Regions from separate parts of the Homo sapiens genome. Here regions 2, 3, 4 and 5 are each linked to region 1. The links come from fine-mapping of genetic effects on gene expression. A gene starts in region 1. Each other region holds a variant in brackets. All regions are shown on one strand. Distances are from middle to middle.

Region 1 (4,116 bases):
GGATTTAATCACAATTAAAACCAAAGAAAAAAATTCCCCTTCAGCAGTGCCCCCCAAGTGACCCCCAGTGACTATCCTTGACTGTCCCCATTCTTCCTGATCCATAGAAAAAAAAACCCATTGCAGCAAAGTATGGCATTTAACTCAAGCTCAACATCCAAGGGTTTAAGTTCCTAACCTTAACCTTAGAGATTTGCAGTACTGCCTAATCCAGGTGCTAGAATGTTCCCAGCATTTCAGGATTACACATAGTGGAAGGACTAGGCATCACCAACTCCTTAAATGGTCAAAAGTAGAGGAATAAAGTTGTGTTTCTAAAGCAAATGATTATTCCAATAGATAATGTATTTTTTTTAACATTTAAGTGCTTTTCTCCATTTAAAGAAATTAACAAAACCCGGGTCCTTTCTTTTCTCATTTAAACCAGCATCCCATGCCCTCTCTCCTGGTAACTGTTCACAAGGTGGCAAGGGTGTGTAATAAGAAGCTGTAAGAAGCTTTTAAAACCAAATCATTGAAGCCATCCAGAGAAGATCTTTCGTCTAAAACAGAAGCAGCGAAGGCCCTAAAATGCGGCTGTACCAAAAATAATAATAATAAATATAAATGACCCCCGTGGGAATGCAACCCTGCCTGGGAGCCCAGGAGAAGACCTTGGCTTCTGGTTAGACACTGCCAAGTCCAAAAGGGCTGGGTCAAAAGGCTCCTGGGGCCTCCAGATTAACTCCTTCCAGACTACTAGAAGCATTCCTCCAAACCCCAGTCCCACTCTGCCTTCTGCCCTCCCCTCCTTAGCCACACCGCAGGCAGGAGGCCCGCGGGCTTCCCAGAGCAGCCATCAGAGCCCTGTCAGAAACGTTAAGGGCTAACTTTTCTCTAGGCAGGCCCAGGGTGTGCAGAGGGAGTGTCTGGGGACCCAGAGGAAGAAGGTCCCCGTTTCTAGGGAGACGCAAGGGCGATGCTAAGTTTAAGAGGCAGGGTAACAAGTCCGGCCAAGGAATCGGGGGTGAGCGACGGGACAGGAAGGCGTGCCCACTCCACAGGAGGATGGGACACACGTGAACAAGCGGCGAGCTGCCCAGGGGCCGGATGCCGCCACCAAGCAAGCGAAGTTGGAGGAAGAGCAACAGCGGAGTGGGCCAACGCAGGACCACCCGTGGTCTCCTCCGCACCTCATCACTGCCCCCCACGCCCAAGCACCCACCCACACACTCCCACGTGCCGTGGCCACTTCCGCCGAGACAGATACTCACCTTTGCCGCCGGCGCGGTCCTGCTGGTCGCCAGCTCCCGCAGACTGCCGGCGGTGCTGCCCGCGGCCGCGGAGAGGAAAACCGGGGAACCCGGGGTGCTGCCTGCCGCGCCGCCCCCGCCGCCCGCGAGCGTGGGGGCCGCACTCTGGCCTGGGATGGGACGCGCGGGCGGGCTGCCGCCGGGGCTGGTGCCCGCGCGGGGCCGCTGACGGATGCCGTCCAGCAGTCGCACCAGCAAGATGTTGGCGGGCAGTTCGTCCACGCCGCAGCCCACCAGGATGCGGCACTCGGGGCAGCGCAGCTCGTGGCGCGAGCACACGATGCTCTCCAGGCAGCGGCGGCAGAAAGTGTGTTGGCATGGCAGCACCTTGGCCGTGGTGTCCAGGCGCTCCAGACACACGGAGCACTCCAGCAGGTCCAGCAGCGACGACTCGTCCATGTCCTCGCCCGCCCCCGCGGCGGTGGCCGCCGCCCGACGCCGCCGTCGCTCGCCTGGCCTGTCCTCGTCGCCCTCGCTCTGCGCAGCAGCGGCGGCCGCCTTGGATGCGCACAGCCAGGACGCTCCGAGCAGCATGGGGGAGGCGCCCGCAGCGGTCTCGCGCGGCTGCCTAGGTCCCGGGGCCGGCGTGGAGCCCGCCACCGGCAGCCAGCATCAGGACTGGGGAGCCGGGCTCCGCCGTGACTTTCTTCACCCCGGCTGGTGGCCCGATGCTAGGGCTGTGGCGGTGCGAAGTGGCTCACCGACCGGCCTGCGTGGCGGGGACCGGCCTGCGTGGCGGGGACCGGCCAGCCGAGCCCGCCCAGTCCTGAGCGCAGCGCCTGCGGCTGCGGGCTACACCTGTCCCGCCGCAAGTCCGCCCCGCGCGGGGGACCGGGGGTGCTGCCGGGCACGAAGCTCAACGGGTTCTGTGCTGCAAGCGGCGGCTCGCGCCTGGGAGACCAGCGGCAGGAAGTGCGGGCAGCGGCCGGCCAGGTCCCCGGGGAGGCCGGGGCGCGGCGTGCACGCTCCTCCGCGCAGCTGGCGAGCCGCACCGCCCCCGCGGCACCTCCATGCGCCCCTGGCCTGCTCGCTAGTCGCTGTCCTCCAGAGGATTCAGCAGGACCGTTCCTCTTCCTCGGCCGCGAGCACGTGCGCGGGGGTGCGCGCGGAGGTCACGGTCACTGCGGGGCTCAGGGAAGGAGGCGCCGTGCCTGCAGGACTTCCCTTCGCTTGGGCGCAAGCCGGCGATTAGCCTGGTCCCCTAGGACATCTCCAGGGCTCCGGGGAACCTCTCCTGCGCAGGCTTGGCCCTGCCTCCTCCAAGCGTCCGAGTCTTTTTCGGCTTTTCGTGAGCCTCAGAGAGGGACGTTTCCTGCCAACGCTGCTGCGAAGGAAAGTTTGGGCGGCGTTATCCCGACTGCCTTCCTCGCCAGCGCCGGCGAGCAGCTTGGGGACACAGCCGACGCCCGGGCATCCTCCCCGACGACCCCCCGGAGCGCTCCCAGTTCAGACTCCTTTCCGAGAAGCGCGCAGAAGTGACAGCCCCGGAGCTTCGTTCCGGTGTAGGTGTGGGGATGCGCCGCAAGGCAGGAGGGGAAGGCGCTCCAGTTGAAGGGGGCACCCCGGGGCCCGCGCCGACTCCTCCCGGCGCAGCCTTGGCTCGCCGGAGTCGCGGGTCGGAGGCTGGCGCCGCTGCCCGCCGACCAGCACCCTGGCGCCAGGCGCCCGGCTCCACGCCGCACCCTTGGCGACGCTGTGCGAGGGGCTCTAGCGCCCGCCGCGGCGCAGTCTCGTGAACCCCCGCTCCAATTTTTTCCTACGGAGGCGCAGAGGAGGGTGAATTCGCGCTCTCCTTCCCGACGCCCCGGCTTCTGGGAGCGTCAGAGCAACGGAAGTACGTACAGGAGGACCGAGAGCAGCAGGGAAGTTTGGCGGTGGGCTGGGGTCGGCGGCGAAGATTCCCTGCCGTGCGCTGCCCCCTCGTGGCCGCTTTGCGTTCCCGTCGGGAAGGGCTGGGTTCCAGTCCAGGGCCCAGCACAAACCAGGATTGGTTGGACGCTGCACAGCGAGTTCAGTCAGGGCTAACATCAGAAGAGTCGTGGGGGGCCTGCCTATCGGCCAGCCTGTCCTTGTGGTTTGTGAAGTTGTATGATCTTTCTGTTATTATTAAGGAAAAAAGTAGTATTTGTTGAGGCTAAAAGGCCAAGAGCGTGCTATATATTATTTAATCCTCTAAACAGCTCTGCCAGATAATTATTTTATTTATTTATATTTACTTCCATAGCTTTAGACAGGATCTCGTTCTGTCAGGCAGGCTAGAGCGCGGGGTGCTATCACGGCTCACTGCAGCCTCAAACTCTTGGGCTCAAGCCATCCTTTCACCTCAGCCTCCTGAATAGTTGAAACTACAGGTGCGCCACCACGCCTGGCTAAATTTTTAATTTAAATTTTTTGTAGCGACAGGGTCTCCTTATGTTGCCCAGGCTAGTCTCAAACTCCTGGGCTCAAGAGATCCTCCAACCTCATCTTCACAAAGTGCTGGGAGTACAGGCGCCAGCCACGGTGCCCAACCTGTGATAATTATTTTAAACTCATTTTACAAATGAGGAAAGTGATATTCATACTTGTAAAGCCATTGGGGCTGAATTTTCATTTTTGTATCCACAGAACTAACACATAAAGTTTACATGCCATTAGAATGTAAGCTCTCTGTAAGCTACAGATCTTTTCTACTGTAATATCCTTAGTGCCTAGGGCAGTGACTAGCATATAGTAGGTGTTCAATAAATATTTGTAGAATTAATGAAAGGATACGTCTCTCTTTCTCTCTCTCCCTCTCTCTCTCTCTCTCTCTCATCACCTACTGGTGATTTGAAGGCAGATC
Region 2 (4,116 bases), 300 kb before region 1:
CATACACACTGCATACACACATGCTGTACCTACATTATGCACACACGCACACACCTTGTGCTTACAGTATGCATACGCACGTGCACAGGCACGCACACTGCACATACTCTGCACACATGCACAAATACCATGCACACAAGCACACAGAAGCGTGCACACACTGCACACGCATAGCATACACGCTGAACACACTGTATATATGTGCACACACTGTCCTCACACAAACACACATTCACACTTGAGACCTCATTCTGGTGACTTTCCTGTCCCTGCTCCTCCTGATCCCATTCTTCTCCCCTTGGTGGCCAATGTCTGCTGAGGACAGCCAAGGAGTTGAGTGCAAACCCAGCTCAGAAGGTGAAATGTGGGCCTGGGGACGCCAGTGGGGGCTGAACCCTGGGCACTGGTGGCCTTGCTGCCTTCTGGGCCCGGCTGACAGAGTAGCCTCCAGCAGTAACAACAGCGGTAAGGCGTGCAGGCCCTTGCCCTCTCCTTGCCCAGGCTGCCACCACCATGCCCTCACCTGGAAACGGGTGTCACGTAGTTTCCGGGGAACACCCCAGAGACCCCGGTCCTCAGAGACGCCCCCTTGAACCAGCCATCCTGACACTTCTCGAGGACCCGGTACATCTCTCCCTTGTGCAGCTCCAGCTCGTCACTCTTCTGGGGCTTGTAGGCGTAGAGCGCCAGGTACCTGCGGGCAAAGCATGGGGCCAGTGTCAGTGGGAGCCCTCCTGGGGATAGGGGACCGGCCGGCATTCCTGGGGGGAGGTTGTCTTTGGAGGAACCCAACCTAAAAAGACCCACTAGAGTCTATGGGGGCTCTGCAGTTTACAGAGGCCTCACACACCCTCCCCAGCTCACTCCTCATAACAAACCCACGAGGCAGGGAGCCTTCGGGGAGCTGCCTGCAGGGGAGGGGTGTGCCTGTCACCCACAGCCTTAGGAGGATTCCACCTGCCCATCTGACAGATAGGAAGGCAGCTCCCTAAGGCCCAGTGACCCCAAAGCCCTCAAGGACTCTCTGAACTGCATCCCAGGGCCAGCTCTTTGGATTTCCAGTGTTTTCCTCTTCTAAAGTCTGATGCTCTGAGCAAGGGAAACCTTAGGGAAAACTGAGGGTGAGCTAAGCTATTCTTGGGCTGGGTTTTCCTCACTTAATATAACCTGGCCTGGTTTTCCTGCCTGGCTTATCCAATCAACCAGAGGTGGAAGAGACCTCAGAGGCCCTTTTTAAGGGAAAGGTGGTTAAGTTAGAAAACTGTGGTTGCACACTTCCTTGCAGTAATTGTGCTATGGTTAATTACTTGACCTTTTTTTTTTTGAAACAGCATCTCACCCTGTCACCCAGGCTGGAGTGCAGTGGTACAAGCATAGCTCACTGCAGCCTCAATGGCCTGGGCTCAAGTGATCCTCCCACCTCAGCCTCCTAAGCAGCTGGGACCACAGGTGTGCACCGCCATGCTGGCTAAGTTTTTTATTTTTTGTAAAGATGGGGTCCCACTATGTTGCCCAGACTGGTCTTGAGCTCCTAGTCTCAAGCAATCCTCCCATTTCAGCCTCCCAAAGTGCTGGGATTACACCAGCCTTAATTTTAAGTCTTATTTGCAAATAAGGAAAGAGCAAATTTAGTGGTGAAAATCCCAGCTTAGGGTTTAGATGCTGTGCCTCTAACTCAGCCCATGGGCCAAGCTACTCTCATAAAATACTTAACTATACCTATATCTTTTCCTTGTAAAGATTGGATAATACTTACAAAAGTGCTCTGCTACTTTTGGGATTTGGGGAAGGTTGGTTTTGAACGGAGGGAGAGAACATACCAGATTATTTTATTTGCTCACAAGATTC[A/G]GCCACGGAAGCTGGTGGAGGCCTCAGTTCACTAAGAGACCAAAGATGAATGTTAATGAAGAGTGATCTGGTGGACCTCACACCAGTGCAGGCTGCTGGGTGGGGATGCTGACCCTATCCAGCGGCTTGTGCACACAGTGCATCTCTGGGGATATGAGGGAAGCTCATAGACCCCACCATTGCACCCTCCTGATGCTGGAGGAACCCCACTTAGAAGTGAAAACAGAAACAGAATGCAGCTCACGAGGGCTCAAGCAGGAAAAAAGAACCAGTGTGGAATATTCTGGAATAGCAGGAGAACCTTGTAGAGATTAAAAGTTTCTTGGCCTTAATATGAAATCTGCCCCCCTTTTCGAACATCCTAATCCTACATAGCAAGGCCCTCTGCCCTCATTCAATGACCTTGGCTATTTCCTTTGTTGATAGGTGTCCCTCATGCCCTCCTCCTAGGGACATGCTGTGGGCTCCAACTGTGGCTGGCATCTTTGTTTCTTTCCCTGTTTGAAATGGTGAACACTGACAGTGAAATTAGGACCAACTCTGGGCTTCAGGAGGATACACAAAATCATCAGGAGAGGACCCCGCCACCCCACCACGTTCACAGTTTCAATGCTATGTCTAGGTGACAAATGGAGAGAAACCAGGGTGTGATTCTGTTCCCATCACCATAGAGGAAATACCACTAAGGGAAAAGTCCAGTGAAAATGACAAACAACTGCAGCCAACACGTACCTGTGTATTGTGCAGGGAAGCTGGAGGGGAGGAGAGGAGAACGGGGAGAGGTGAAAGAAAGGGGATGAGAGAGATGGAGGGAGGAGGAGGGAGGAGGAGGAGATGGGGAGAGGATGGGAGAGGACGGGGAGAGGACAGAGGAAGAAAGAGAAGGGGAGAGGAGAGGAGGGTGGCTTCCACACAGCCTGGGCTGAGGCAAAGGAAGGCAGAAGAGGAGAGGAAGAGTGCAGGGAGGACTTGGATCCGTGGAAGGCTTGTGAATCAGTAACAATGACGCACAAATTGATGTGCCTGCTCTCAGAGAAATACAATTGAGTGTAAATCCTGCTTAAGTTAGCCTCATCTGTTGCTTTATGGTGTCAAAACAGTTTGCTTCAGTGGCCACATGCAGAATGCGCAGCCGGGTTGGCTCCTGGCCATGGGCAACAGTATGCAACTCAGGCCGCACCAACAGCTCCTTTTAGTTGGTTCTGGGGTCCGGGGCTGCCTTTCCTCTGGAGTGGGGGGCTCATCAGCTGCCAAGGCAGGCTCAGAACACGCCCTAGCTGCTGACCACAGCTCACGGACTCCTCTCCCTCCTGCTCCTGGGCTGGTAGGCAAGGTGCAGAGCTAGGGGCTCAGTGGCCTGTGTGGGGTGGGCTGTGCTCTGTGGAGGCCTTGTTCCGTGGATTGGCTGCGGCTACACCCGCTGACTGGGGCTGGGCCACTTCTCCCTCCAGGCTACTGCAGGCTCCCTGCACAGCGTGGAGCTTGGTGGCCTGGGAGCATGGAACCCCTAGCAGGGCTACCTCTGCTCGGGTGGCCCTGTGCAACGTGCTTCCTCCCCAGGGCTGTCTGTGGCCTTCTTGCACATGTTTCACAGCTGCGGACACAAAAGCTCGAGGGGATGGAGCTTCTGTCCATGGTCACGCATGTTCAGGGGTAGGGCCAGGGCTGGGCTGCTGGAGCTGTCAGCGCGGCCTGGGGCACAGCTGGGGCAGGGCTTGGGCAAGATGAGAGCTGCAGTTGCACAGAGGTGTGGCCCGGGGAGGCTGGGGTCCTGAATGGGGTATGTTGGCTCCTCACTCCAAGCACAGGCCCGGTGTGGCCAACGCGTAGGGAGATGCTGCCCTGACGTGCACCAGGGCACTAGTGCACTTGGCCTCTTCATCTTAAATTTTAAGTTCGTTCTGTTGATGAGTAATCCTTCACTCTGATCTCTATTTTAAGTTCGGCCTCTAGGTGTAGGTTGCTGGGGGAACTGGAATGTAAATAAGCCTAGCTTCACTTTGAAAAATCTCTTCTCTGCCTACTTTTTTTCCTCTGGGTGCCTCGTAGGGGACACCAAAAGCAGATGGATGTGCTGGGTCTGTTTTCTGGCATGCGGCTCGTGTTGGGTGGGCCTTGGCCCGGGTGGGGGTCAACTGCATCTGCTGTCCTCTCTGAGGTACTCAAGAGGAGGCCTTGGAGGGACCACACTGAAGAGCAATTTGTGCCGAGACCGGCCCTTCCCAACCTGCCTCCCTCCCACCTCTCAGGGTCTCTGCCGCTGCCCCC
Region 3 (4,116 bases), 96 kb before region 1:
AAGAGACCAAGTCCTGATGGCATCATCTGAGCCATGAACCCGGCCATGGTGGATGCATCTACCTCAGGACCCTTGGTTATCTGGGCCACCACACGGCTTTGCTTCTCTCTGTGTTTTGACTGATTCCAGTTAGTTTCTCTCCTGCAGCTGTAGGGGTCCTGGTTCATTTCTGTAACCAGCTGTTCTTCTTACTAAGCCACAAGTTCCTTAATGGCACAAAGCATGTCTATATCTGAATGTCCCCTAAAGATCCAGCACCACGCCTTCTGCGTGGAGATCCTGCAAAGACTTAGGAGCAAACGGAGCCACAAAGGGAGCAGATGCATGGCCCCGGGAGAAGTCAAGATGGCAGACCAAGAAACACTCAGGAAAGGGGAGCGATTCAAGAAGCAATGAGAAAAAGCTAAGAGTGATGAGCCACAAAGTCACCCTAAGAACAGTAAAAATCTAAACTTTAAAGGGACTTAAAAAGAAGTGGTTGCTACAGTTTATTTTTGGTTTATGTCTTAAGAGGTCAGCAGGGTACTTACTTAACGATGAGGACTGCACATGGGCCACGTGTGTCATTAGACCTCACATGGCTCCAGTTCCTCCATGGGCCACAGACACTGTAGATGAAACAGCTGACCTTCCTGAGTCAATGTGACTTTAGCTTTGAAACAGTTGGCAGGGTCATGTTCAAAATGAGCTTATTGATCTGTTTACATAACTACTCTTACATTAACTATTGTAACAAAAAAAATGTAAAAGGAGCCAGTCTTTCTCTAAGTTCCTTCTGCAGATGTTGACAAGCAGAGCTGTGAGCTGGGTTCATAAACCTGGGAAACAGATAATAACTGCTATTTGGGGACAACCTCCTCTGACATTTCCTCCTAAAATTAACAAGTGATTTAGCCTGAGTCAAAAATGACAATATTACAGCTATGCAGATAAGTTGTTCAGGGTCAGGCCTATTTTTTCCTGACAAAATACTACTCTAATATTAAAATGGTATTTTGGTGATTCATTGTGGAGAGCTCCAACAACAGATTAGAATAGGGACTCTTTGAAAGCAAACTTTTAGCTGGCATGGTGGAAAGCGACTATAGTCCCAGCTACTCGGGAGGCTGAGAGGGGAGGATCACTTCATCCCAGGAGGTCAAGGCTACAGTGAGCCGGGATCGCACTTCTGCAGTGCAGCCCGGGCAACAGAGCGAGACCCTATCTCAATTTTAAGAACGAAAGAAAGCAAACTTGAAACTAACTTATAAAAATAAATCTTAAAATTTAAGTCTAGGACAAACACACCACCTGCTCTCCTCTCTGTTCCTGATATTTACAGGAAACAAGACGGTCATCTTTTGATTTTCTAAATTCAAACATGAAAGTGACTTAAGACATTGCAAATGGGAAGTCCCAGAGAGGAACGTGGAGCATCCCACATTAAAAATCATTCCCTGGCCTAACTCTCAGGAGAAAACTCCACATGGTGAGTGTGAGTGGGCCAGGTGGGTCAGCCCACCCAGTCCCCAGTGGGGAGTCGGCCTGGCCTGTATCTTTAAAGGGAGTTGTTTGTGTGAGAATCGTTGTGAAACCTGTTAACGTGCAGATTTCGGGTCCCTGTGAAATGGGTCCAAGCGGAGCCCGGAAACCCACATTTTGAAACTTCCCTTG[G/A]TTACTTGCAGGTCTCTCCACCCAGCTGAGTACAATGGTTTGAGGACTATTCAGCCGGATCCCCAGTGTTTAATAAGCCTTCTTTATTATTATCGTTATTAAAATAGAGCTCTTCATATCCCAGTTGCCAAGAATGGGGCAAGATAGAATCTCAGAACTAGCAGAAGCCATAGAACCTCATTTTACACAAGAGGAAACTGAGGCCAGGGAATTTAAGGGACTGTGCTGGTGTCATCCAGCTTAGTTGGTTGGTCTAAACGAAAAGGCTCCAGGCCAGGTGTCAAAAAGCTATGTCTCAGTCACTTCCTTCTTCCAGACAATCTTTCCTTCAAACCCACAAAATTCTTTTTAAAATAAGATTTTTAAAAAGATAAGGTTATGCTGCAGTTCTCTAGCTGTCCATTAGAGTAGCCACTAGCCACAGGTAATTATTTAAATTTCAGTTTTAATTGACTAGAATTAAATGAAAAAAAATTTTTTTGAGACAGAGTCTTGCTCTGTCACCCAGGCTGGACTGCAGTGGCATGATCTCAGCCCACTGCAACCTCCCTCTCCAGGTTTCAAGCGATTCTAATGCCTCAGCCTCCCAAGTAGCTGGGATTACAGGTGCCCACCACCATGCTGGGCTAATTTTTGTATTTTAGTAGAGACGGGGTTTCACCATGTTAGCTAGGTTGGTCTTGAACTCCTGACCTCAAGTGATCTGCCCGCCTTGGCCTTCCAAAGTGCCGGGATTACAGGTGTGAGCCACTGCGCCTGGCAAAATGAAATTTTAAAAGCCACTTCCTGAGCCACGCCGGCCACATTCATGAGCTCAGTAGTCACCTGTGGCTGGTCGCTACTGTACTGAACAGAGCAGACACAGGACATTTCCATCACTGCTGCTATGCACATGACCTCAAAAACTGCTTCAAGTCCCTTTTACATCAGAACAAAATGCAGATTTAATCTTGGACTAAACCCAGCATGCAATCAAAATCCCACATGCGTATCTGAAAATGTGCTTATTTGTCCAATATGTGACATATAGTTTTAGCATCACTAATAATACCAAACAAGTCTTATTTTACTATGCTTGGTAAAAACCTAATTTTGATAGATCTGATTAGCTATTCAAGCCAAGTTTAAACTCCCAATGCCCACACCCCCTCCATTTGCACATGCACACACACTCTCTAGGCCTGCCAAGCAGGGGCAGAAGTGGGAGACCAGGCCTCAGTTTCTTTTTGTGTAAAACAAGGGGCGAGGCTAGGTAAACCCTGAAGCTATTCCAGCTCTTAACATTCTATCCATTAATGAGCCATGTGGACAGATTTTATTGATTGAATTTGTTTTTGAGACGGAGTCTCACTCTGTCACCTAGGCTGGAGTGCAGTGGCACAATCATGGCTCACTGCAACCCACACCCCCCAGGCTCAAGTGATCTGATCCTCCTACCTCAGCCTCCGGAGTAGCTGGGACAACAGACATGTGCCACCACATCCAGCTACCAAGTGGACAGATTTTAATTTCACTTTCTGCACAAACATGTATTGAACACTTTCATGTGCCAGGAGCAGAGACTAGCAGGGATGGCTCAGAGGCTGTCCTCCACGGCTCTGCAAGGAAAGACAACGACACATCCCGGATCTCCACGTTGGGGCAGCATCACGTGGGGGGCAGAATTCAGGGGAGAGCCATGGAGAGGTGCAGGGCTACCCAGGGAGCACTAAGGAGCTCCAGTTGTCTGCATGGTGCTACTGCCCTCCACCGATGCTTGAATGGAGCCCGCAGCTGAAGCATGTGCCCACACCCCTCAAGCCCTTCCTACGCTTCCATTCTGCTCATTTCCAGCCACTGACCTAGGACTGACATGGGCAGGCCATGCCCACTCCCAAAGGGGGACAATGCCTGAAATAACCGAGGAATCAAAGCACTTCGGCAACTCCATCACAGCGAGCACACGGCAGCTCCTAGTGGCCACTCCTGCTTCTTCGGGCTTCAGAACGCCCCTCTTGGCTCTGTCGGCTCTGGGAAACACACCAGGTAGGCTGCTCACGTGGCTGGTGCTCACGCAGCCTCTGAGGGCTCTGGATCTGGTAACAGCCAACTCCTGGTTATCAGGGCACTTGACTGCATGGGACGGCAGCAAAGGGGGACAAAGCATTCATGATCTGTGGCAGCAGCACCCATGCTGGTTTCAGGAGAAGGTGGCAACCTCATCCTCCCACCTCTCTCCAACCACCTGCTTCCCCCTGTCTGGGATGGAGAAGCATCAGGGCGTGGTGCCAGCCTCTGCCAAGAGGTGGGATCACACCATCTGATGGCCACAGGGGCGGACAGTGCCCTCTTCACCCTGAAGGGTGCAGTGAGTACAGACCCTGTTGATGGGAGAGTATGGGGACCGTAGCCCCAGGCAGGGGCAGGTCCATCCCTCTCACAGCTGGCTGAGTCCCCATGTGGGATACACGCGGACACCTTGGG
Region 4 (4,116 bases), 98 kb after region 1:
CCATGTTGGCCAGGCTGGTCTCGAACTCCTGACCTCAAATGATCCACCCGCCTCAGCCTCCCAAAGTGCTGGGATTACAGGCATGAGCCACCGCCTCTCAAAAAAAAAGTATCATCAAAGAAGGGAAACTCACCAGATCAACACATCCAGACAATGAGATACCCTACATTGTGACTGCTTCCTTGCCCCTCCGTAGTTCCTGTTTTCTTACACACTGTTATCTTTCTTCCCTGGTGTATAAACCCCTAGTTTTAGGTGGATGGGGAGATGGATTTGAGACTGGGCTCCCATCTTCTCAGCTACAGCACCTGATTAAAGCCTTCTTCCTTGGCAATACTTGTCATCTCTGTGATTGGCTTTCTGTGCAGGGAGCGGCAGGACCTAGACAGAACCTGGGTGTTTCGGCAACACCACCTGCCTCTGCTTCCGAGGGCACACTCAAAAAGGAGGGGACTGGGCCCGTGCATTCACCTCAGTGTCTCTGTTTCACAAAAGGAGTCGTGGAAATCAGAATAATCAAAATCTCAGCTCACAGAAATGAGCGAGGCTGAATGCAAAATTAAAGTGGACAGGGCCCATCAACAGCCTGAAAGGGGCTTTGTTATTCCTTCCTAGGGAAGTCATCACCTCTCAGAGAAGTGTCTGGCTGAGTAATGACCAAACATGAAAGGTCTCTGTCCACTCAAGGCATGGATCATACTAAGGCCTGGTGATCAGTTTAAAGGAAATGTATTTCCCATGGCTGATGTCCACAACGTTCAGCTTCCAAGGGTTCAGGAAGGACTTATATTTCACCCTGCCATGACATGGGTCAAATATGAGGCCTCTTTGAAAATCCAGGGAAAATTAGCTCCTGGTGACATAGGATGCACTTCTTAGCTCCTAGTTGCCCATCTGGAGTTCTCTGTTAGGCCCACAGAATCAGCAAACTCTGTGTGGAATTAGGCGATTGCTCCTCAGTAGTGGCAGTGCAACCGGAGGGAAATTATTGTTCCATTCTGACTTGTGAGTTCCTATAAATCTTAGCTTTAAATCAAATGCTCTGTGAGTTGCTACAGGAGTTTCATTTAACCCACCAGCCTGTGCAAGAGGTGAGAGGTGGCCCGACTGTGAAATCCCAGAAGACACATCTAGTTGGCCAAGGCCTCTGCTCTCAGCTGGAGGAAAGACTCCCCCACCCCACCCCATGGGGAGGGGAGAAAGCGCATGGATGGAGTGGGATGAAGAATGGAGAGTGAGGAGAAAGCCCTTCCATGGTGTAAAAGTCAGGGCATCCGCTGAAGCCTCTCACACATTCGACCGATGTCACCCCAAGGAGCAGTTTCACCAGACAGGGTGCTGAGTCTAGCACAGCATCTGTTTGCAGACGGTGCTTGAAAGGACTGAGGTTGGGTCCTGGAGTTCTAAAGTTCTAACCCTTTTCTTCTGTCTTATTTCACCTTCCTGCAAAACAAAGAGGGGGTGGGGAGGGACAAAAAAAATCGCTATGCAGAAGTTCACTCCGGAAAATGCCCTGAAATAAAATCAACAAGATTGATGTGCAGGCAGACAGGTAATAACTTTAGAAGTGAAAGAAATCTCCAAAGATCTATGACATTTTTAACAAAACAGGGGGAAGGTGGGCAGCGCTCAAAACTGCAGAGCGGTAATTACACCCACAGGAAGTCTCTAATGAACTTGAAAACAAAGCTCCGAAGAAAGGGAAAGAAGATAACTGCAGAGTTCTGTTTACGTAACCGTAGGGGGTTTGAACACCAAGAACTTACAGCTCCTGAAACGCGGTGAGGAAATGGGAGGGAGGGCAGCGAGCGTTCAGAGTTTTGGCAAAAGGTCAAAGAGAGTGAACGGATGTGGGGGGAGGGGAAGAAGGTGGCGGGGGGTGGGTGGTAGCGCTCACGGGACAAGAAATTGAGCAAACAGAAAAGCTTAGTTGCTGAAGAAAATACTTAGAGGAAGGAGGGTTCTCTTCGCTGGGGGCAAAGTGGGGCAGCTTTATCCCGCCTGTGGCCCGGAGGTAGGCGTTGGCGCAGGTCTCGCCGGCGCCCGCAGCGCGTCCAGGTTGCCACCGGCAGAGCCCGGCCCACG[T/A]GGCCGACGCTGAAGCGGCGCTCTCCGTTCCTCCAGCGGGCGCTTCCCGGCCGAGCTGCAGGGGGTGCACACAGCAGAACTTCACTGCGCCCTCCTCGCCGCACGTGGGGCCAGGCCGTGCGCTAGAGACCCGCGGACTCGGTGCAGCCCGGCGAGGCGGGCAGAGCCGACTGCTGGGTCTGAGCGCGCATCCCCTGCTGCTACTGATTGAAGCCCAGTCCCCGGTGCAACAGTAGTAAGAGGGGGCCTCCAGGGAAGTGATTCCGTCGTAAGGGGAACGGGGCTGATAACCTTATAAGAAGGCTGGAGGAAGCTGTTTCCTCCCTTCCGCTCCTTCTGCAGAGCGTTCCCGTCTCTACCCCACCCCTGCCACATCAGAGCCCCCATCTGTGCTGAGTCAGCCAGCACCCATCAAGAAGCCCCCATCTGTGAGGAACAGGCCCCCCTCACTGCTGACACCTTGATGGTGGACTTCCAGCCTCCAGCACGGTGAAAAGGAAATGGCTATTTATAAATTACTCTCTAAGGTGTTTTGTTGTAGCAGCAGGAATGGACTTAGGGACCCGGAGTTCTTACCATTGCCCAATCACAATACCCTTAGACTCCAGCATCTCCACACATGGCGTCCCCTCGTGGAGCGCTCCGTGTCTTACCATGAGTCAGTGAGACAAAAGGTGCAGATGACACTGATGGTGGTATACATGCACACTGTGTTAGTCTGTGTACTAGTTATGAGTATATATACCAATTATTAAACCATTTTACCAAGAAAATAAAGACTTGGGAGATGTTAAAAAACTGCCAAAGTCGGGTGTGGTGCACCTGTGGTCCCAGCTACTCTGGAGGCCGAGGCAGAAGGACTGCTTGAGCCCAGGAGTTCAAGACCAGCCTGGGCAACATAGTGAGACCTAGAAAACAAACAAACAACAACAACAACAACAAAAACTGTCAAGAGACAGAACCTGGATAAGAAGTGGGTTATATAAACCAAAGTGGTCCAAAAATTCAGATGCCTGAGGGGCCCCAAGCTGGTCCTAGGTACTCAGGAAAGTACAATTCTAGAAGGAGCCTTCTGCTTAACAGCCTGCTGGTCATCCTCAAAGAGGCCACCACTCCCCACTCCTTCTCAGGGAGCCTCATCCCATCAGACAGTGAGGCCCATTCTTTCATTCATTCAGGTCATATTTACTGTCTATCCAGAATGCACCAGGCACTGTGCTAGGTGCTACTATACACATTATCACATTTGGCAGGGTATGGCACACCTCTTCATTTAAAAATAACCTTTCCAATGACATTAACAATGGGCTTTACTTACGTGAAATTCACTTAAAATAGAATTCTAAGGAATTTTACGTAGCATACCATAATTTGGCTAGAGGAGAAGGCTGGGTCTTCAGTGGGAAAATGTTGAAGGTAAAGCACTTGAGCGCATGGCCTGCTGGGGAGAGTGCTGAGCCAGCTGGCTGTGCAGGGGAGGATTGAGGAAAAGGCTGAAAATGAAGGCTGAGGATCAGTTTCATGAGCTCTCGAATCCAGGTTGATTTGAAACTGTTCTTTGCATAGGCAGAACATTCTGAGGTAGCAAACAAAAGTTAGAGTCAAAGAATTCTTTCTAAAGAATGATGTCAAGGAGGCAGTAAATCTAAGACTCACCCACACACTCGAACTGGCACTCAGTAAATGCTTACTGAATGAATGAATCAATCAATCCATCAATACAGAGATAGCAACCAGGATCCTTGTCAAGTCAAGAGGGTTATTAGTATAGTATTTCTTTAAAATAAACAGCCTTATCTGTGAGCAAAATAAGAGGCTGCCCCTGAAGGCTAAGGATGTCTGCATCCATTTGAGAGAAACAGCCTTTCATTGTGCAATGATTAGGCTTAAGTTGCTGGCAAGGCTGGAGACAAGGATAGAGATGAAAGGCTGGATGATGGCTGCCGGGGGGCCCTGTCCTGCAGCTGTTCCAGCCAGGAAAGGAGAGGGGAACAGAGGAGACAGCACAGGCAGCAGGCAGGCATCCCAGGC
Region 5 (4,116 bases), 200 kb before region 1:
CAAATCGGAATGAGTGCCCGTTACTTGTGGGGTGCGGTTCTGGCGTGGGGTTTGGGAGTGAACAAAACACTCAGAGGTCCCCACCCGGGTGGAGTTTATGTTCCAGCCAGGGGGACAGCAACAAAACATACAAATAAGTAAAATCTAGAGAATGTCAGAAAGTGGTTAAGTGCTAAGGGGACACATAAACCAGGGGAGGGGACATGAACACTGGGATGGGGATAGGGTGAAATCTTAGAACGTCATCATCGAGAAGGTAACTGAGGGACACGTGGATGAGCGAGGGCTAGTCGACGAGCATGTCCCAGCCCTGAGGGGCAGAGAGGAGGTGGCGTGTGGAAGAGGTACGGGCTTCCCAGGGTAGGGGCTGTGGAAGGGCTGGAACAGCCCAGCAGAGACTCAGAAGGAAATAAACGCCATTGAGAGTTTTCAATGTGGAAACTTGAGGCATAGGGAGAGGATAAAGAGACACCTGAGAAAACATGCTAGAAAGAGCCGTTCTCGTGTGGGACGGGCGAGGGGCCTTGCCCCACAGTCCCCACAGCTGCTCCTCTGAGGTGCGTAGGCCTCGGAACTCTAGATCAGGCGCAAGGAACAGGTAACACCCCAGGATGCTGCAAAACGTCCTGACGAATCTGCTCCGAAAACACGAAATGTTCGGTTTTGAAGCAGGGAGTGGTATGACCACCATGATCCCAGGCAGAGACAAAACCGTGTCTTCAATGATCAGGGAGCACATGTAAGTCGCCAACGCGGTGACATAAATCGCGTTCTCAGAGCCTCGCACCAGGACGCATGGCCTGGGAAGGCACGCAAAGAGTTAAAAGCAGAACCTTTCCAGGAAGGCCAGCCTAAAAAGCAAAAAGAAGGCTTCTCAATAAAAACACTGGGTTCCACAAATATGTAGTCCACCTGTCCTGGAAGTGCTACTGAGGGGAGCAAGTGGCACATAACATTCTAGTTGGAGAAGGAGAGAGAAAAACAGAGGCAGGAACAAACTCCTTCAGCAGCCTCTGTGGCCCATCGCCTCCTGTTCTCATGAGTTGAAGAGGCATATTGCAGCTTTTTCTCCCTGTGTCTGTGGGTCTCCTTTCCCTCTTGTCTGCATTATTAAGTGTGACTTCCTGTCACCATGCTGCCATCCCCTGCTGGAATCAGCGCAGTGGACACTGTGGCTGCCTCACTCCATCCCTGGCATCCCCGGAGCGGGTGAGGGTTCCCCTGCTGGCTGGCACCACTAGCACCCTTCCTTTAGCCAAGCCAGTCTGTGCCCTTATTGCGAGGAAAGTCCGCAGGGTTCTGGACCAACAGGAAGCCAAGACACCCACAAGGCTGTGTTTCCTATGGGAGGTACCCTGATGATGAGGTGGTCTTTATTTTTTTTTAAGATTTTTTTTTTTTTTTTTTTAAAGGAAAAAAAAAAAACTGTCACCCAATCTGAAGTCGAGTGGTGTGATCATGGCTCACTGAAGCCTTGACTTCCTGGGCTCAAGCAATCCTCCCACCTCAGCCCCTCGAGTAGCTGAGACTACAGGTGCATGCCACCACACCTGGCTAATTTTTTCTATTTTTTTGTAGGGACGGGGTCTCACCATGTTACAGCCCAGGCTGAACTTGTGGGCTCAAACAGTCCTCCCACTTTGGCCTCCCAAAGCGCTGGGATTATAGGCGTGAGCC[T/A]CTGAACCTGGTTTTGAGGTGATCTTCAAATGCACAACTGTCTGTGATTTGAGGAAGCGACTGGACTTTCCTAAAGTCTTAGAAACCTGCCCACTTCCTTAAAAATTTAACACATTACCACTTGTCAGAAAGTACTCTGAGCATGTCCTCATTATTAATTCTTCTGAACTTCATAGCAACCTTAGGAGACAAGTATTATTTTGGTGATATCATTATTATATCATCATAATTATAATTATTAATATTATAATGGAGATATTATTATCTCCATATTATCTCCATTTTACAGTGGAGGAAACTAAGTCACACAGAGGTTAATTAACATGTTCAAGGTCATGCTGCCAATACGTGGCAGAGCTGGGATTTAAACTCTAGCAGTTTGGTTTCAGAATTTGTGCTCTTATCTTCTATGCCAGCGGTCAGCAAACTTTGTCTCTAGTGGAGCAAGGTGGCTTTGCAGGCCATCAGTGTTAGCTGTAACTATTCAACTCTGCCATTGTAGCAGCCAGAGCTCCAGAGATTCCATGTAAATTAGTGGGTGAGATTGTGTTCCAATAAAACTTTACTTACACAAACAGGTGGGGTATGCTATACGTGAAACCTCACTTTGTAGACTGTGAAATGTGATCTCAAGTCCAGGATGACTGACTAAGGTTAGGCTTGTTTTATTTTGTGTTTTTAAAAGCAAGAATCTCAACAGATTCACTTTCTTAACATCTGATGCTGAAACCAATACATTACATTGATCACATTCAGTTTCTTGTGCATTTCAGCAATGAATATATCCAGCAAGGATATGCTAGGGCTCTTTTAAAAGGCGAAACTAATCACCCTGAACTTGAATTCTCAACTACAGGCAGGAGAATGCCTGAACCTGATAGATACAGGTAAGTCCATCATGCCTTTCCGAGGTGCAGGCCTGGTGCTGCCGCGAGCAAGATCAACCCTGGGACTTGAGCTAGGGCTGGAAACTGAGGTCTCTCCTGGAACGCACTGAGGCAGCACTGGAGCTGCAGGGCACCAGGCAGTGAGCAGCTCTGCACTCACGCGCATTCCCAATCCCAGGCTGCCGAAGACGAATACATGACCCAGCAGGCTAGGCTGTCTTCTGCATCCTGCTGATGTTGGGACCACCAAGGTCTCACTGTCACAGTTAATTTCCTCCCATCAAAACAGCTCAAAGGAATCCACTGGTTTCTGACCATTTATTCTATAAGGCAAGAAACACTTCAACACTTTTGTGAGGACACAATTAACATACTGTGCACGTTAAAAAGGGTGATTCCGAGTCCTATTTCTCACCACCCACACTAGCACCTGTGCCTCCACACACTAACCCTGGGGGCGGGGTGGCTGCTCCTGGATATGTTCTGTAGGAAGCTCGGCAGGAATCACTCAGAAGGGTGACTCATCGCCCCATCCTTTCCTGCCTGGCAAATTAGAGGATGTTCCACCCACGGGGCAGCCCTGGCTTCCTTAGCACAGCACAGTGAGCTAAGAAATGCAGAACTGTCTAGTCCAGAGAGGGCTGAACTGCGGGGAGCTCGGGACAGGAGAAAGCTCTGTTCCTCACACATCCTGGGACTCCTTAGGGGCAGAGGCAGCAAAGGAGCCTTGTGCTGCTTCTGCTGCACTCAGCCCCAAGCCCGTCCAGGAAGACCTGCACCCTGCTCGGGGTGCTGGGGGAGTCGCGGGAGTGTCAGAGCTGAGCTACAGGCTGAGAAGGAAGGAGCAAGTGCAGCACCCCTGGGCGCAACTCTCAGAACACAGAATCAGGAGGAGGAGCTCTCTCAGGAGAGAGTTGGCGTGCCAGAGGGAAACAGACGGATCAGCAGGTTGTTTCTACCCTGAACTCAGAGAGGCAAGAAGGTCTGTTAGGGGTCCCATGAGGCAGCTTGCAGAGGGCTCCGGGCCGCAGATGCTTCCCTCTCATGGGTAAAGCGCCTCTCTGGTGCTCTTTACCAGCAGCCTTGGCCAATGTCTATGCTAAACAGAAGCACCCAAAAGACTGGCAAACACATGCAGTCTTCTCTCTTTAGCTAAAGCAGAAAGCCACAGATTTCCGGTAACCGCTGCTCCCAGGCTCAGCCGGCATCCACGACTAGTCACAGACAGTCACAGCACCAGGAAGACCCATCGGAGGATCGGCCAGGTGCTGAGGGTGCAGGCAAACCCCTCCAGAGAGGCAGTGGACTGCAGCTCCTCTGGTGAGAGGTCTCTCCTCAGGGGAGACCCCAGGGGCATGACAGGGTGCCCCTGGCAAAGATCTGAACACGAGACTTTTAAAAAATCATCTTAATATTATATTCATTCAATCAGTCACCAAGTACTTATTGGCCACCTAATATGTGCCAGACATGGTTCTAGGAACTAACAAAATAGATAAAGAAAATAGAAACAAAATAGATAAAAACATCTCTACCTTAAGGGAGCATACAC

The links. PIP is the estimated chance that this variant, and not a neighbour inherited with it, causes the effect.
Region 2: its variant is fine-mapped to the expression of SH3RF3 in whole blood (TOPMed, PIP 0.93).
Region 3: its variant is fine-mapped to the expression of SH3RF3 in whole blood (TOPMed, PIP above 0.99).
Region 4: its variant is fine-mapped to the expression of SH3RF3 in whole blood (TOPMed, PIP above 0.99).
Region 5: its variant is fine-mapped to the expression of SH3RF3 in whole blood (TOPMed, PIP above 0.99).

Annotation. Positions count from the first base shown.
Region 1 is chr2:109,127,251-109,131,366 of GRCh38, reverse strand. It overlaps SH3RF3 (SH3 domain containing ring finger 3), which reads right to left and starts at 2,162. Exons shown (of 10, transcript NM_001099289.3): 1 at 1,254-2,162. The coding sequence starts at 1,826. SH3RF3-AS1 (SH3RF3 antisense RNA 1) reads left to right here and starts at 1,248. Exons shown (of 1, transcript NR_029193.1): 1 at 1,248-4,040. It also overlaps a transcript of RANBP2 not described here. RefSeq lists silencers at 2,147-2,346, 2,377-2,426, 2,437-2,506, 2,887-2,946.
Region 2 is chr2:109,429,079-109,433,194 of GRCh38, reverse strand. It overlaps SH3RF3 (SH3 domain containing ring finger 3), which reads right to left. Exons shown (of 10, transcript NM_001099289.3): 6 at 524-694. It also overlaps a transcript of RANBP2 not described here. Among named protein-coding and RNA genes, the nearest start is that of MIR4266, 120 kb to the right of the region's middle. RefSeq lists an enhancer at 2,810-3,373. The variant A/G (reference allele first, on the strand shown) is at 1,849.
Region 3 is chr2:109,222,875-109,226,990 of GRCh38, reverse strand. All of the region lies in intron 1 of SH3RF3 (SH3 domain containing ring finger 3), which reads right to left. It also overlaps a transcript of RANBP2 not described here. Among named protein-coding and RNA genes, the nearest start is that of MIR4265, 83 kb to the right of the region's middle. The variant G/A (reference allele first, on the strand shown) is at 1,654.
Region 4 is chr2:109,029,657-109,033,772 of GRCh38, reverse strand. It overlaps a transcript of RANBP2 not described here. Among named protein-coding and RNA genes, the nearest start is that of EDAR, 42 kb to the right of the region's middle. The variant T/A (reference allele first, on the strand shown) is at 2,086.
Region 5 is chr2:109,331,651-109,335,766 of GRCh38, reverse strand. The region is part of intron 1 of SH3RF3 (SH3 domain containing ring finger 3); the gene reads right to left. It also overlaps a transcript of RANBP2 not described here. Among named protein-coding and RNA genes, the nearest start is that of MIR4266, 20 kb to the right of the region's middle. The variant T/A (reference allele first, on the strand shown) is at 1,678.